Homo sapiens: one gene and its partner. The protein of the gene in region 2 interacts with the protein of the main gene of each other region in a biochemical or structural test. Each region holds a gene or a part of one and is shown on either strand. Other genes may lie near its edges.

What was found. Proteins that work in one complex are often made in the same cells at the same time.
Region 1: the proteins of SLC2A8 (region 2) and AP2A2 form a complex in vitro, tested with the Homo sapiens proteins (one study listed by BioGRID).

The regions. Positions count from the first base shown.
Region 1 is NC_000011.10:984,870-991,869, reverse strand, and holds part of AP2A2 (AP-2 complex subunit alpha-2), read right to left. Parts: intron 6,439-7,000; coding exon of another isoform or gene 6,436-6,438; coding exon 6,288-6,435; intron 5,086-6,287; coding exon 4,917-5,085; intron 3,319-4,916; coding exon 3,181-3,318; intron 1-3,180. UniProt on the Homo sapiens protein: Component of the adaptor protein complex 2 (AP-2). Adaptor protein complexes function in protein transport via transport vesicles in different membrane traffic pathways.
Region 2 is NC_000009.12:127,392,380-127,400,168, reverse strand, and holds the start of SLC2A8 (solute carrier family 2, facilitated glucose transporter member 8), read right to left. Parts: upstream 3,001-7,789; 5' UTR 2,939-3,000; coding exon 2,883-2,938; intron 2,794-2,882; coding exon 2,631-2,793; coding exon of another isoform or gene 2,265-2,630; coding exon 2,058-2,264; intron 1,998-2,057; exon of another isoform or gene 1,856-1,997; coding exon of another isoform or gene 1,835-1,855; intron 263-1,834; coding exon 163-262; intron 1-162. Other genes in the region: GARNL3 (GTPase-activating Rap/Ran-GAP domain-like protein 3), read right to left, coding at 6,915-7,086.

The DNA.
Region 1 (7,000 bases), on a different chromosome or scaffold from region 2:
CCCTTCGAACAGCGCCAGCTGCCAACACCAACGCCAGCAGGCATCAAGACCGCGCACCTCCCGAGGGCACCCCTAATACCCTGCCGCCCCTCCCCACACCCTGCCGCCCCCTCTCCACACCCTGCCACTGGCCTCTCAGGTGCTGGTGACTGTGCCCCCCCACCCCAAGTCCCTGCCTGGAGCCTGGACCCCCAAACCCCAACCTGACTCCGTGACACTTCCAGGGCATCATTCCAAAATGTACTGCCTCTGAGCCCTACCCGCAGCTCACGGCTGTGCACCAGGGGCCCTCAGGCCTCACTGGCAGGGTCCCCATGTCTGCTTCCACCCCTGCCTCGCGTGCCCTGCTCCCCAGCCTGTGCTAAGGTACCTCCCACCCCTCCACGAACGGATGCTCTGCCCTCCCAGTAGCCTCTGCACCATCATCCTCTCCAGACCAGGCCACTATCACCTTCTGCAGAAGTCCACACAGCCCCCCAGGAGTGTAATGCCTCCTGAGGCCCCCAGAACATGAGGCACTTCCTCCAGCCATCCCACCCACAGCACAGCAACCCACGGTCCTGCTCTCAATCCGTCCCCCTCCATGGATGGCAAGGTGCCGAGTAGGCAGGGAGTGGGCCATGTCCAGTTTGGACACTTAGCACCTAGCACAGCCAGAGAACACGCCCTGCCATGCTCGACTGAAAGGACAGAGGGAAACACCATGCCCGGCTGAAAGGATGGAGGGGAGCACCATACCCGGCTGAAAGGACAGAGGGGAGCACCATACCCGGCTGAAAGGACGGAGGGGAGCACCATACCCGGCTGAAAGGACGGGGTGGGGGGAGCATCGTGCCCGGCTGAAAGGATGGAGGGGAGCACCATGCCCGGCTAAAAGGACGGAGGGGAGCACCATACCCGACTGAAAGGATGGGGTGGGGGGAGCACCATACCCGACTGAAAGGATGGGGTGGGGGGAGCACCATGCCCAGCTGAAAGGATGGGGTGGGGGGAGCACCATGCCCAGCTGAAAGGATGGGGTGGGGGGAGCACCATGCCCAGCTGAAAGGATGGGGTGAGGGGAGCACCATGCCCAGATGAAAGGACGGGGTGGGGGGAGCACCCTGCCCGGCTGAAAGGATGGGGTGGGGGGAGCACCATGCCCAGCTGAAAGGATGGGGTGGGGGAGCACCATGCCCAGCTGAAAGGATGGGGTGAGGGGAGCATCATGTCCGGCTGAAAGGACGGGCTGGGGGGAGCATCATGCAGGCCAAGACACAGCACCTGTCTTACTCCTCACAGCAGGAGCTGGCTGAGGATTGCCGCTCATCACGCAGAGGGGCGAGAGCAGACACCGGGCTGACGAATGCCCAGGACCTCAAAATCTGCACAACTGCACTCAGAAGCACACTGCTTCTGTCTCTGTTCAAAACACCCAGAACAACAATCAGGAACGAGGCTCCCGTGACGGCCGTCCCCAGAGCCAGCCCCACCCCACCACAAGTGCTGACACCAGGCCACACTGCCCCAGCCAGGCCAGAGAGGGACCACTGGCTACAGTCAACGAGCACCTGCCTGGCCCCTCTACAGACAGCCCTGCCCTACACCACGGTGCCTGCCCTTGGGGCCTCCTGCCGGGAGTCAGCCCACCCCGTCCCTGTCCCCCTCAACTTCCCAGGCCCACTGTCCTGGAGGGTGGACAGTCCAGCGTGAGAGCCGCCTCCTGGCCCCTGCTCTCTGCAGGTCTGCAGTGCCTCACTGAAGCTCAGTCCATGGTAATTTCACCCCTCAGCATTGAAGCCCCAGCACCTGGGCTCCTCCGTTCACTAAAAGACCCCTGAAAACCCGAGTCTCTCACCTGGGCATGACCACACAACACCTGCCCAGAGCAACCCTGTCACCTGCCACTAGCTCCAACACTGGCTCTCGGCAAAGCTCCCAAGGAGGCCTTGAGCCGCACTTCGCCCAAAAAAAACAAATAACAAAGCGCTTTCTATACAACGGAGGCGCTGTCTCAGCCTCAACAAGAGGCTGTGGTCCTGGCTGGTCACAGTGGCGAACCCCACGCGAGGACACCGGGCCTCCCCCTTAAACCCCACCATCCACAGACACGGTGAGCCTGAGAGGCCTGTGAGTGTGGTGGAGGCCTCAGGCCCTCTTCTCTGCTGACCATGTGGCCTCCACAAGGGTTTCTTCCCTCAGGTTTTGGTTCATGCTCAGTCTTTCACACGTACAGGTTTGATGAGCTTCAGCTATCTGGCAAGTGTGCACACCTACTTTGTGAATAAAAACAACACGGGACATTAAGCTATGGCCTAGATCCCGTCCTTCCCAGAGATCAAGAGGGACACCCAAAAAAGCCAAGCCACAAAGGATTAATTCAAGGGCTCAAAATGCAACACAATTAAAAGAATTTTGCCCACAGGAGTCTGGATTTGTGCAGCCCCAGCGCAGACGGCTGGAGCCTCACTCAGACCTGGGGCTACAGTGCCACCACTGCAAGGACAGGCAGGCCACAGAAGCCGCGCAGGACGGGCATTTTAGTTTTTTTTTTTTTGAGACAGAGTTTCGCTCTTGTTGCTCAGGCTGGAGTGCAATGGCGCAATCTCGGCTCACCACAACCTCCGCCTCCGCCTCCCGGGTTCAAGCGATTCTCCTGCCTCAGCCTCCGGAGTAGCTGGCATTACAGGCATGCGCCACTACGCCCGGCTAATTTTGTATTTTCAGTAGAGACGGGGTCAGGGTTTCCCCATGTTTGTCAGGCTGGTCTTGAACTCCTGACCTCAGGTGATCCGCCCGCCTTGGCCTCCCAAGGTGTACAGGCGTGAGCCACCACACCCGGCCAATAGTTATTTTCAAGACCAAACGACTCTACCAAAAATGCTGATTTTTTTTTAAGACAGGGTCTCGCTGTGTTGCCCAGGCTAGAGTGCAGTGACATGATCTCGACTCACTGCAGCCTCAACCTCCTGGCCTCAGGTGATCCTCCCGCCTCCACCTCAGGAGTAGCGGGGACCACAGGTGCCACCACACCCAGCTTGAAAATGTGGATGAAAACACAGAGGCAGAGGAGCCTTGTATTCAGCATCTCATGGGTTCTCAATCAAGTCCTGCTGGACGGAATCGCAGAGCACGAAGGAAATCCTGCCGCTGAGATTCACGCCTGTGGCAGGAGAGGACTCAGAGGCCACCAGAACTCACAATCTCTTCTCGGATGGAGTAGTCAGCTGTCTCCAGATAGCTCAGCATCTCGGCCACGATCTGTGGGGCGTTGCTGCGGTCGCACATGGCGTAGAGGAGGTCCACGGCCCGCTGCCGCACGCTCACGTCCCGCTCAGTCTGGGGAACAAGGCACAGAGTAAGAGGTCGCAGGAGCAAGGCACAAGCTTGGGGACAGGCTGGGGACAGGCTCGGCACCCGCATCTCAACACCCACTCTGAGTTTCCCTCACATGCACATCCAGGTCCAGGGAGCCGACCTGCACTCGGGCCACGTGTGTCTGGACAGCCCGGAATAGAGTTCCGCCTGCTGGCCCGGCCCTCCCGCACAGGCCAGCTTCGCTAGGACCCAGCGCACTGCCTGGATTCTGCCCGCTCGTCCATGCCTCCCTTGCCCTCCACAAGGGCCAGCTTCGCTAGGACTGAGCGCACTGCCTGGTGCAGGCCATCAAGGACTCCCTTCCATGCAGCCAAAGACCCCACTGCCTCGGACACGGAGCTGCCCCAAGGCAGGTCCTCACGCCCCACCCCAGAGCCCGTGCTGATGGGCCCCCAGGAGGCTCTGCAGCACGAGAAAGCCCGAGCTCTGCTCCCAACAAAGGCAGGAGAGTGGGCACCACCAGCGCTAGCACTGGCCGTGTGCAAATGAGTGTCCAGCCCTTCTGACAATAGGGATTGACTAAAACAAACACCAAAACCAGGACCAAGAAGAATCCAGAATACCAAATGCCCACCACGAGCCCCTTGCACACCACCCGGAATATCTGTGAGCTGCACGCAGACGTGCGGGGGACTGGGAGCAGCCCTGCCACAGCCTGAGGCTGAGCCAGATGGGGGACATGCAGCTCCCCGCCTCCCACTCCCTAACGCATGTGCACCGGTGACTAGGGACTTGGTGGACACACCGCAGGGTCCCCTATGTGGAACGAACCCTCGGGGTCGCTCTGGAGACTCGCAAAGGCTGGCAATGGCCAACCTCAACTGGGCTCTTCCAACTCTGAAATTTTTTTTTTTTTTTGAGACGGAGTCTCGCTCTGTCGCCCACGCTGGAGTGCAGTGGCGCGATCTCGGCTCACTGCAAGCTCCGCCTCTTGGGTTCAAGCCATTCTTCTGCCTGAGCCTCCTGAGTAGCTGGGACTACAGGCACCGGCCGCCACCACGCCCGGCTAATTTTTTTTTGCATTTTTAGTAAAGACGGGGTTTCACCGTGTTAGCCGGGATGGTCTCGATCTCCTGACCTTGTGATCCACCCGCCTCGGCCTCCCAAAGTGCTGGGATTACAGGCGTCAGCCACCGCGCCCGGCCCCAACTCTGAAATTTTAATCCCCGAACAAAGTGAGTTTCCTTTGTAAAAGGGGGATTTTCTTGGAGATAAGGGAAAAAAATTTCATCTTTCTACCAAGAAGAACCATTTCTACTTGTCAGCACTATGCACGCGCAGGATGGCACACGGGGGCTGCCCCCAGCAGGGAAAGGGCTGCCAGAGACTCCTCTGCTCAGCCTAACCAGGACAGCAGGGCCAACCCGGCCATCTCCAGGCAGCATGGCCCTCAACAGTGGTGTGACCTCCCAAGAGTAGGTGACAGGCGGAGGCCAGCAGCACCAGCACCACCTCCATCTCTGCGGGGAGTCAGGAGGCACTGCGTACCCCCAGCCTTCACAGGAAGACCCACGGCACCTGCTCAGGGAGTGAGCAGAACCCAAGGACAGGGCACTCGCCTTCAGGGCGTTGATGACCGTCTCGATGTGCGTCTTGACAGCCTCATGGGAGAACTCAGAGCTGGCCAGCGTGCACATGCTCTCCAGGGCCAGGTAGCGCAGGTTGGTCTCGCGGTGCTGCAGAAACTGGCCCAACTGGTTGCAGGCACGGACGAGCAGGTTCGGCTCACTGTGTGGAGGGAGGGGAAGTGGGTGGGGTTTCCTCAGCAAGTGCAACACAAACTGGACAGAGTCTGCGTTCCCCGACGGGTCCAGATGGCAGACAGCAAAGTCACACGGCACTCACCGCCACCACACTGCTCAAGTGGGAACTCGGGGGCCTCCCCAGATGCAGATGACGCCCGACCCCCACCCCTGACATCCATTTTGTGTCCATCCTGTGCATCCCCACAGTGAGTCAGCAGCCCGTGTGTCCACTGGAGCCTTCCCAGCACCTCCTGAGCCTCAATCTGCATCAGGCCCGCGGGAGGCCGGTCAAGCTGTGACCGGCAATGGGGTCTCAGCCAGAGGCACCAGCCCAGGGCAGGGAGAAGGCCGAGAAGGCCGGGAGCGCGGCTGCTGCCCCACTGACTCTACTGTCTCCTCAGGATGTGGCTTCTCCTCACATAACAACAGAGCTTTCTCCAAAATGGGAAATTTCAGTTTTAATAACTCTCAGTTCTGAAGTGTGACTCTCAGACTGAGTTTTCATCATTTGTAAAAATGCTGTAGTAGCAAATGGGTGGTGTTCACAAGCTGTAGAGAGCGTCTGCCCACAGCCTGGCACGTGCCCTCATTATTGGGAGCCTGGTGAGAACTGCGATCTCATTCTCACAGGACCCTAAAGCATGGCCCCACACGCAAGACCCACGCCAGACCACATGTGGTGCGCCGCAACTGCTGAGCAGAGAAGGCGTGGGAGCAGAGGAGGCAGACCCTCCAGGCTGTGTGGAGCGACCGCCACCCTGCGCCTCTGCGCTTCGTGGATGGGCACAGACGTTTCCAGCACTGCCCTGCGACCCTGGACCCACCAAGTGCGGCTCCACATCCAGCAAAGCCACGGGACATGCGCGCACACCCCCCACCCCACCCGTCTCCTCTCTGTTCCACTACATGAGAAGCCAGTCAGGAGTGGGGATGCTCAGGGGAAGGAGGAAAAGGCCCTCGTGTGGGATGAGACCACAGTCACCAAAGCAATCCACGGTGAGCTCAGAGCAGGAGGGGCCGGGCTGCACAGAAAGAAAAAAAGCATCCGGCAGGGAGCACAGAGGCAGGACGAAGGGGAGGCCCATGGAGTGGACAAACCAGACATGATCCGCCCAGTCTCGTGCCAACGAGAAGGAACGTGTGTGTGTGCGCGAGACGAAGCCTCTCCACAGGCAGCCGACACACCTGTCATGGTGAATGATTAAGCTGATGGCCTCGAAGAGCACGGCATTCTTCGCGTTGGAGTGCTGGACCTTCTTCGACTTGGGCGGTTCTTGGGCTTTGTTCAGGATGGTCTCCAGGCACTCAGTCAGGCGGCCTCGCACTGCAGGGTCTTCTGGGCAAGACAGAACGGTGCTCACCAGTCTCCAGTGGCCCGCAGCCCACCCTGCCCCTCCCGGCTGCACCCATACATCATGAGAGCATTTTTAATATAGTTCATTCACATTTGTGTACCCAGCTGGAAGCATTTACAAAACTGAGACAGGCCGGGCACGGTGGCTCACTTCTGTAATCCCAGCACTTTGGGAGGCCGAGGCAGGCCAGTCACCTGAGGTCAGGAGTTCAAGAACAGACTGGCCAACATGGTGAAACCCCGTCTCTACAAAAACGCAAAAGTTAGCCGGGTATGATGGCAGGTGCCTGTAATCCCAGCTACTCAGGAAGATGAGGTGGGAGAATCGCTTGAACCCGGGAGGCAGAGGTTGCAGTGAGCTGAGGTCGCGTCACTGCACTCCAGCCTGGGCAACAAAGGGAGACTCCATCTCAAAAAGAAAACCTGCACAAATCTGATACTATAAAAGCACAAATAGACCCAAACACTAACAAAACTGTAGGCTCTGCAATAACTGCTCCACGAAAGCCAGCGCATACAGCAGCACTGGCAGAAAGGTCCATGA
Region 2 (7,789 bases):
AAGACTCACCTATCCCAAGGTCCCAGGAAGGCGAGCCTGGCATGTTGGGCACTGGCTATGTGACCTCAGACAAGTCCCTTGACCTCACTGAACCTCTGTTTACACATCTGTAAAATGGCCACATGACCACAAACAGGAAGCAAGAGATAATGACAACTATACCTGCCAGGTAGGCCAGGAGGATGCCGACGACGACCATTAGCTGCACACAGGAGCCGAGCAACCCCCGGACTGCTGGGTAGGCGATTTCGGAGATGTAGACCTGCCAGCAATCAGATGAGGATTTATGGCTGGGCGCAGTGGCTCATGCCTGCAATCCCAGCACTCTGGGAGGCCGAGGCGGGCAGATCACCAGAGGTTGGGAGTTTGAGACTGGCCTGACCAACAGGGAGAAACCCCATCTCTACTAAAAATACAAAATTAGCTGGGCCTAGTGGCACACATCTGTAATCCCAGCTACTCAGGAGGTTGAGGGAGGAGAATCACTTGAACCCTGGAGGTGGAGGTTGCGGTGAGCCAAGATCCCACCATTGCACTCCAGCCTGGGCAACAAGAGCGAAACTCCGAAATTTTTAAATAAAAATTAAAAAAAAAAAAAAAAAGATGAGGCTTTACTCAGGCTCCAAGAGTTCTTAAAATGGAAAGGTCTCAGCCATTCAGAGCTGAGGAAAGTCCTTGCAGGGGGTTACGGCAGGCCCTGAAGCCCCTTAGTGGAACCTGCCTAGGTGAGCAGAGCCATCCCCAGGTCCCCACCACTGAAAGATCTGTGGCAGGTGTTTAAAGGGGATTAAGGGTAACGGAGAGGGCTGCATATGATGACGAGAGGCGGTGGGCACAGAGCTTCTCAAGCCTTCGTTTAATGTGCACAGACACCCTGGATAAATCATAGATTCCGATGCAGTAGGTCTGGACAGGCGAAAGATTCCACCTTGTTAACCAGCTCCACGTGACGCCCACCCAGGATCCTAGCCCAGGGCCCACGCTTTGAGTGGTGGCCTTGGACTAGAAGCACGAACTCTCTGCCTCGGTCACTACCAGTGGCTGCCACTAGCTCCCTCCTGGGCCCACAGGCCACCAGGCCCTCACCCATGCATCTAAGGTTATTCCATAGCTTAGGCCCCTAACACAGGTGTGTTTCTGCCCAGTTAAAAAAACCAAAGACATAAAAGGCCCAGCTTCTTCCCCACCCTCTTCTGGTCCAGCTGCTGCTGCCGGTTAGCAAACGTTGGTGAAATGAGCACCCAGGGAGGGGCCTGAGTGGCTGCTTTCAACCTCACTTGGGGGAGATATTGTCCAAGCCCATGGCTGGGGGCAGTTCATGGGTCACCAAGCTGTCAGGATCCAGTCCTCTACAAGCCATGCCAGGGGCTGTCTATCCAAAGTCCCACTGAATCCTGACCACTACCTCAGGGGCTAATGCCATAATCCCTGTTTTCCAGAGAAGGAAACTGAGGCCCAGGGAGGCACTCTGCTCAGGTTAGTGGCAGAACCAGGATTTGACCCAGATGTTCGGGGCTCCCAAGTGGGCAGCCTGGGTCAGGAGGGGGAAAGGGGGAAGATGGGGAAGCCAGAGGGGCTGGCCTGTGAGAAGGGAAGGGGAACACAGAGGCCAGCAGCCTTTGCCCCAAGAGAAATCAGGACAGGAACTTCCTGCTAATTGCAGTCATTGACCCGAAGCCAGGGATGAAAACCAAAATGTAGGGAGTGGGCTCCTGTGGATCATCCGCAGGTTTGCAGAGCAAAAGAGGGGCACGGCTAAGTGGGACAACCCTGGGTTCCTGCAACTGCTTCCCCTCTGACTAGCTGTGGACCTCGCCTGGGCAAAGGACTTCACCTTTCCGAGACTGCATGTCATGACCTCAGTGTAAAATGGAGAGAACAGTAGGATCCTTCCCAGGGTCGACGGGAGGGACCGCGAGATAACGCAGGGACTTCAAGCCTGGCACCCAGAAGGTCCCGCCAGGGGGAGCCGCGCCCCCAGGCCTGGGGAGCGGTTTGTCCCACTCCCCCTCGGTCTCAGGCCGCGAGACAGGACACTCGAGAGACGGGACACTCACCGGGGCCACTAGGGAGGCAACACCGCAGGCCAGGCCGGTGAGGAGGCGGCCCCCCAGCAGCATCCACACGTCCTGGGCCGCGGTGATGACGGCAAAGCCGGCCACGAAGGGCACGGAGCACAGCAAGAGGCTCAGCTTGCGCCCGGCGCGGTCCACCAGCCAGCCGCCCAGCACTCCCCCCGCCGCGGCACCCAGGGTCACGACAGCCTGGAGGCGGGCGGCTGCTGAGGAGGGGGCGCCGAAGCCGCAGCCCATCCTCCCCCTCCACCCACTCCCCGCGGGCTCAGAGGTAAAAGAGCCGGGGCCCCGCGCCCGTCCCGAGGGGAGGGGTAGGGGGCTGAGGGGCCCGGTGCTCGTCCCGAGGGGAGGGGTGGGGGCTGAGGGGCTCGATGCCCGTCCCGAGGGAAGGGATGGGGGGCAGAGAGGCCCAATGCCTGTCTCGTGGGGAAAGGTGGTGGCGGCGGGGCCCGATGCCTGTCCCGAGGGGAAGGGTGGGGGGCGGAGGGTCCCGATGCCCGTCCCGAGAGGAGGGCGTGGGGTCCCAGGGCGGGAGGAGCGAGCCCGGGGCCTCACCCCGAACCAGGAGGCGGCGGCGTCGTCCAGGCGCGGGGCCGGGGGCGCGGCGCGCTGCAGGCTAGGGATGGCCGGGGAGCTGTAGCCGAGCGCGAAGCCGAAGCTGAGTGGGCCCAGGGCAGCGGCGAAGGCGGCGAGGAAGACGCGGCGGCCGCGGGGCGCGCTGGGGGGACAGGGCCGAGGGTGAGCGGAGCGGACGCGGAGGGGCGGGAGGGCGAGGCCGCATCCGGGCCCGGGTTCCCCGGAGCTCACCTGCCGCCAGGAGGCCCCAGAAGCGGCTGGGTTTCCTCTGGGTCCTCGGGCGTCATGTCGGCGGCCAACGCCGATCGGCCAGCTCTGGCGCCTGAACCGCCACGGGCCCTGCGAGTGCGGCCCGCACCGGCCTCTCGCAGCCAATGGGCGGCGGGGGGTGGGGGACGGTGCTGGGCGGGATCGGAACCGCAGAGCAGGAGCAGCCAATAGGAACGCAAGGCGGGGCTAGCGAATCAGCTAGGACCCGCCCTTCACATTAAAGCAGACCAATGGGAGCATAGAACCGATTAGCGAAGCGCGCTGGAACCGCCCCTAGGGCGGAGCGGTCCAAGGTACAGGTGGGGCGGAGTTTCCGTCTGGGAGAACAACCACCCAATTGGAGTGTAGTGCGAGCCCATAGACGGGGCCAGAGAGCTGCCTCAGAACTGAGCTGGCCAATGAGGTTGGAGGGAGGAGTTTTTTTTCTGGCACCTCCTCTCAATCTGGCTTCAACCAATGAGGGTAGAGGCGGGGCGAAGGCGAAGCACGTGGGCCTCAGCCCGAGACTTCCCGCCCCCAACTCCGAGAAGCTGCACCTGTCCTGCCCGGTCGGGTCTGCAGTTCCTGCTCCGCTTTAATCGCTGCCCTGGGGACTGTATTGGAGGCGTCTGACCTATGCCTGGGCCCAGCTCTGCAGGGGAGAGAGCCTCTAAGCAGACCGTCCTGGGCCGCCTCTCTCTCCTCTCGGAGGGCGAGACTGGTCAGACGCTCCCGCTGGGCTGCTGGCGGCGGAGGCGTGGCCCTGTGCACCGAAACCCACTTTCATGCTTCCCAGATTGCTGAAGGCTCGGGTCTCCAGGTGCTGAGGACCAGTGGTAGGTGGGGTCCCCCACGCCGTATGTGTGACAGATCTGGGCTCCACTCCCCCTCTTAAGTGTCACTCACTTCACAGGGAGTCCTGACTCTTGAATCTTCATCTACCTGCCTCCATATTTTGAGTTCCCTGTGGATTTTAATGCCACCTTCTCCCGTGTGCACCCAAGTCGAATGATGAGGCACTGTTGGATCTCACCAGTTGTACCCGATTCATACCCAACACTCTGGGTGCAGGCAGCTGTGGTGGAATGCTGGTGTAATTCTGGAAAGAGCCAGGGCATGGGAGTAAGAGGCTTGGCTTGTAATCCCTCTCTGGGCCTTGTGTTTCCTCATCTCTAAGTGGGGATGACCATTATCTTCCAGGAGAGTTGTGAAGCAAGGTAATGTATATAAGACATGTGAAGCACTCAAAGGCTAACCGGTATGATGAAGACAGTCATCTGATATGTTGCAGTCACTTGATGGTTCTAGCAACCAACATTTTTCAGTCCTGACCACAAGCCTATCCTTAAAGACTTAGGCAACTGCCCTTCTGTACTCCCACAGCATCTAATGCTTGATAACTCGAGCACTAGATGTGTATTCTTATCACAGCATTTATCACTGCTTTGTGATCCCTTGTTTACTTCCGTCCTTCCCCCAATGGACATGACCTCCTCTGGAGAGGAGGCACTTGGTGTGTGCAGAGTGGATCAATGCCTCCAACTCCATAGGCAGACACTGCAGTTAGATGATTTTCTGTGTGACTCAGCCAGTCGGGTACACAGAAAGGATTATGTAGGCAGGGTGCTCCTACCCTGTGGCCGATGGCTTCCCTTCCCGTGAGTGTGCAGAACTCACTTCTTGGCCTTTGTAGACAAATAATGTTGCCAGAACAGCCTCCTGCCCCCTTTTCATAGGCAAAGCACCATCAGCCTGATCAGTAGGGTCCACCTCTTGCCCTTGCTACATCACTCCTCAGACCTGTGACTCTTGTCAAATTGTGGGTGGCTCTAATGCTGCTGATTTGGAAGAATGCTCTAAAATAGTCCTTGGGTTTTTTTTATGCTACACTGTGAAGCAAGAAACTTCCAGAAAAAAAGGAAAAACACAGATACAAGCTCATAAAGCTTACAAATTAGTTTAACATGAAAAACACCAGCCAGATCCAGCTGACACAAGGCACTGAGCCTGGCTCTGCATGGCAGACGTGGGGAAAGCAAGGGCTCTGGAGTCAAAGAACTTGCAGGTTCAAACCATTGCCCCTTCCTAAGCCTATTTCCTTATTTGAAAAGCAAGAATAATAAAACATAATTCATTAAACTGTTGGTGGGGTTGAGACACAGTGTTTTTTTCCCCCTATATAGGAAAAGGGCATAAAACACACAAAGGAAGAATGGGCATGCTAACTGCTGCAAAGAATATGAGCAGACACATTTGGTTATAAACAGCCCCATCTGGGTATACCTAAAAAGCACTGTCTTTACTACTCTTGACTCTTGCCTTCTGCCAAAGATGAACCAAGCAACCTTCAGCTTGGGCTATCATGCTGATCTGTTTGTACAAAAGACAGAGAGGGGAACTTTCCCCACAGTGTGCAAGGCCCACTAGGAGGTACGACCCAAACTTCTATAAAATCTGTCAGACCAAGGTCCTGTCAAACTCAGTTCTCCACACTCACAAAGAAGGCCTGCTGGCCGGGCATAGTGGCTCACACCTATAATCCCAGCATTTTGGGAGGCCAAGGTGGGCGGATCACGAGGTCAGGAGTTCGAGACCAGCCTGGCCAACATGGTGAAACCCCATCTCTACTAAAATACAAAAATTAGCTGGGTGTGGTGATGCGTGCCTGTAATCCCAGCTACTTAGGAGGCTGAGGCAGCAGAATGGCTTGAACCTGGGAGGTGGAGGTTGCAGAGAGCCGAGATCGTGCCACTGCACTCCAGCCTGGGCAATAGAGTAAGACTCTGTCTAAAAAAAAAAAAAAAAAAAAGCCTGCAGAAGAACTCTTCTGAGCTGCTTTAACGGGGTAACAGGAAGTTTCCTTTGATGAATAATGTAATAATATAAGTAGGAAGAGACAGAATAAAATTGAATTGGCTAGACTAAAGCCAAAGGTAAAATACCTTCTTCACACAGATTAAAATATTTGCAAACAATGCTAGTGAAACTGGATCTCCCCTTGGCTAGTGGCTGAGATTTCACTATTTCTTTTGCACTTGGCCCAGTCCACATTTCTTTCTGTTCACACTGGAGAGGGAGCCAGGAAAGGCAGATAAACCAAATTATTATCTTCATATCATTTATGTGAAAGAGTGAGGGGGACTCAAAAAGAAGGAGGAGTTTGAAAATGCTTTCTTTTTTTTTTCTTTTCTTTTCTTTTTTTTTTTTTTTTTTTTGAGACAGGGTCTCCCTCTGTTGCCCAGACTGGAGAACAGTGGTGCAATCTTAGCTCACTGCAGCCTTAAACTCCTGGGCACAAGGGATCCTTCCACCTTGGCCTTCCAAAGCACTGGGATTACAATGAGAATACTTTTAACCACAAGGAGTAGCTGTTCTCTGGTTACATTATTGCAGAGTAACAATAAAACCACACAAAATAATCTGAAGACTTTTGACAAGCTCCTATGCCTTAATATTTTTCATGAGATGCAGGGAAGAAGGAGGAGCTTCTAAGATCTAACCATTCAACTTTTCTCAAAAGTCTACAGGCAGGAATGCAGCTGGTTCCAATCACGGTGAACTGAAACAGCAACCGGGGCCAAAGGTGCAGAAAAAAAACTTACTTATAATAAAGTTAAAAAGCAACGACTTTTCTTTATAAAAGAAACACATTATGTGACATAAATCAAAACTGTAATGAAAAAATAATTTTCCATCTAAGTATATAAAATATGAGAAGGTTGCAGTAAATAAGAATGAGTATTTTTGATTTATTCAAAGTTTCAATCTAAAACCTCAATGAAATCTACCACCTTTATTACAAGGGGACTGATGGTTCCTGAACAGAAAGAAACAAAGGTCAGGAAAGATGGCACCGGACATTGGAGAGGGAACTGGCCGAGTGTGCAGAAGGTTTGGTCCAATAGATCACTGACAGGCTAAAAGCCACATTTTGTTGAGAAATTACATCAGAACTGTTTAAAGAGTATAAACCTCCATAAGAAAACTAAAGATGGCAAATGAGATTCAACTCTGTTACTTCAAGTCTATAATGTCTTCATCGGAGAAAGCCGTGAGCTGGAAGGGGCTGCTGCCGGAGACCGGGCTGCCCTCTCTGTCTGCCACAGGGTCCTGGTCAGAGCTGGCTGAGTGCCCCTCAGGGTTGGCTTCGGAAGTAGAAGCACTTTCCAAGGAGCCTGATGGGATCCTAGAAGAGAAAAGTCACTGTAAGAGGATCTTTGGGAGTACCACAGAACTGGGCCTATTTTTTTCTGGCAATTTCCTGCTCATCTGAGCTCATGAGTTTGGCTCACCAAACCCTCACTGTTATGTGGTAGAGGTGGGGAAGTGCTGGAATGCCACCCCCATCACCTCAGGGGGTTTTGAGGATTAAAGGCCGAGTGTGTGACACATGGAAGGTGTTTGTGAGGCATTATTTACCTACCTTTCTAAAGTGCAAATCCAGATAATGTCATCCTGCCTAAAACCCTCCCATGGGTGCCCAGGGCCTGAGGATCAGGCTGAAACTCATAGCCAAGGTTCCGGGACTAGGCCTGTGATCCCTCCAGCCTCCCAGGGCACCCCTGACTCCCTCTGTTTCCTCCAGCTCCTCAGGACTCTCTCAATAGCTGCATATTAATTTGACCAATATTGGTTTCCACTTCTCAGAGAGTTAATGCATTCCACAAATACTCATTGGCCTGCAAAAGCCCACCTGGCTCAGCTGCTGCCCACTCTCGGCCTCACACAGTTCCTGGCTCCGTTCTCTATGCTCAAGCCTGTCCACTCTTCCTCCTGCCTTTTAACTGGCCATGCTAGGCCTGCTTCGGGGCCCTTGCCCTGAGGTAGTTGCTGTCAGAAGGGCTGTTCCCCTAGCTTCTTACCGTTTATTCCAAGCCCAGCCCAATGCT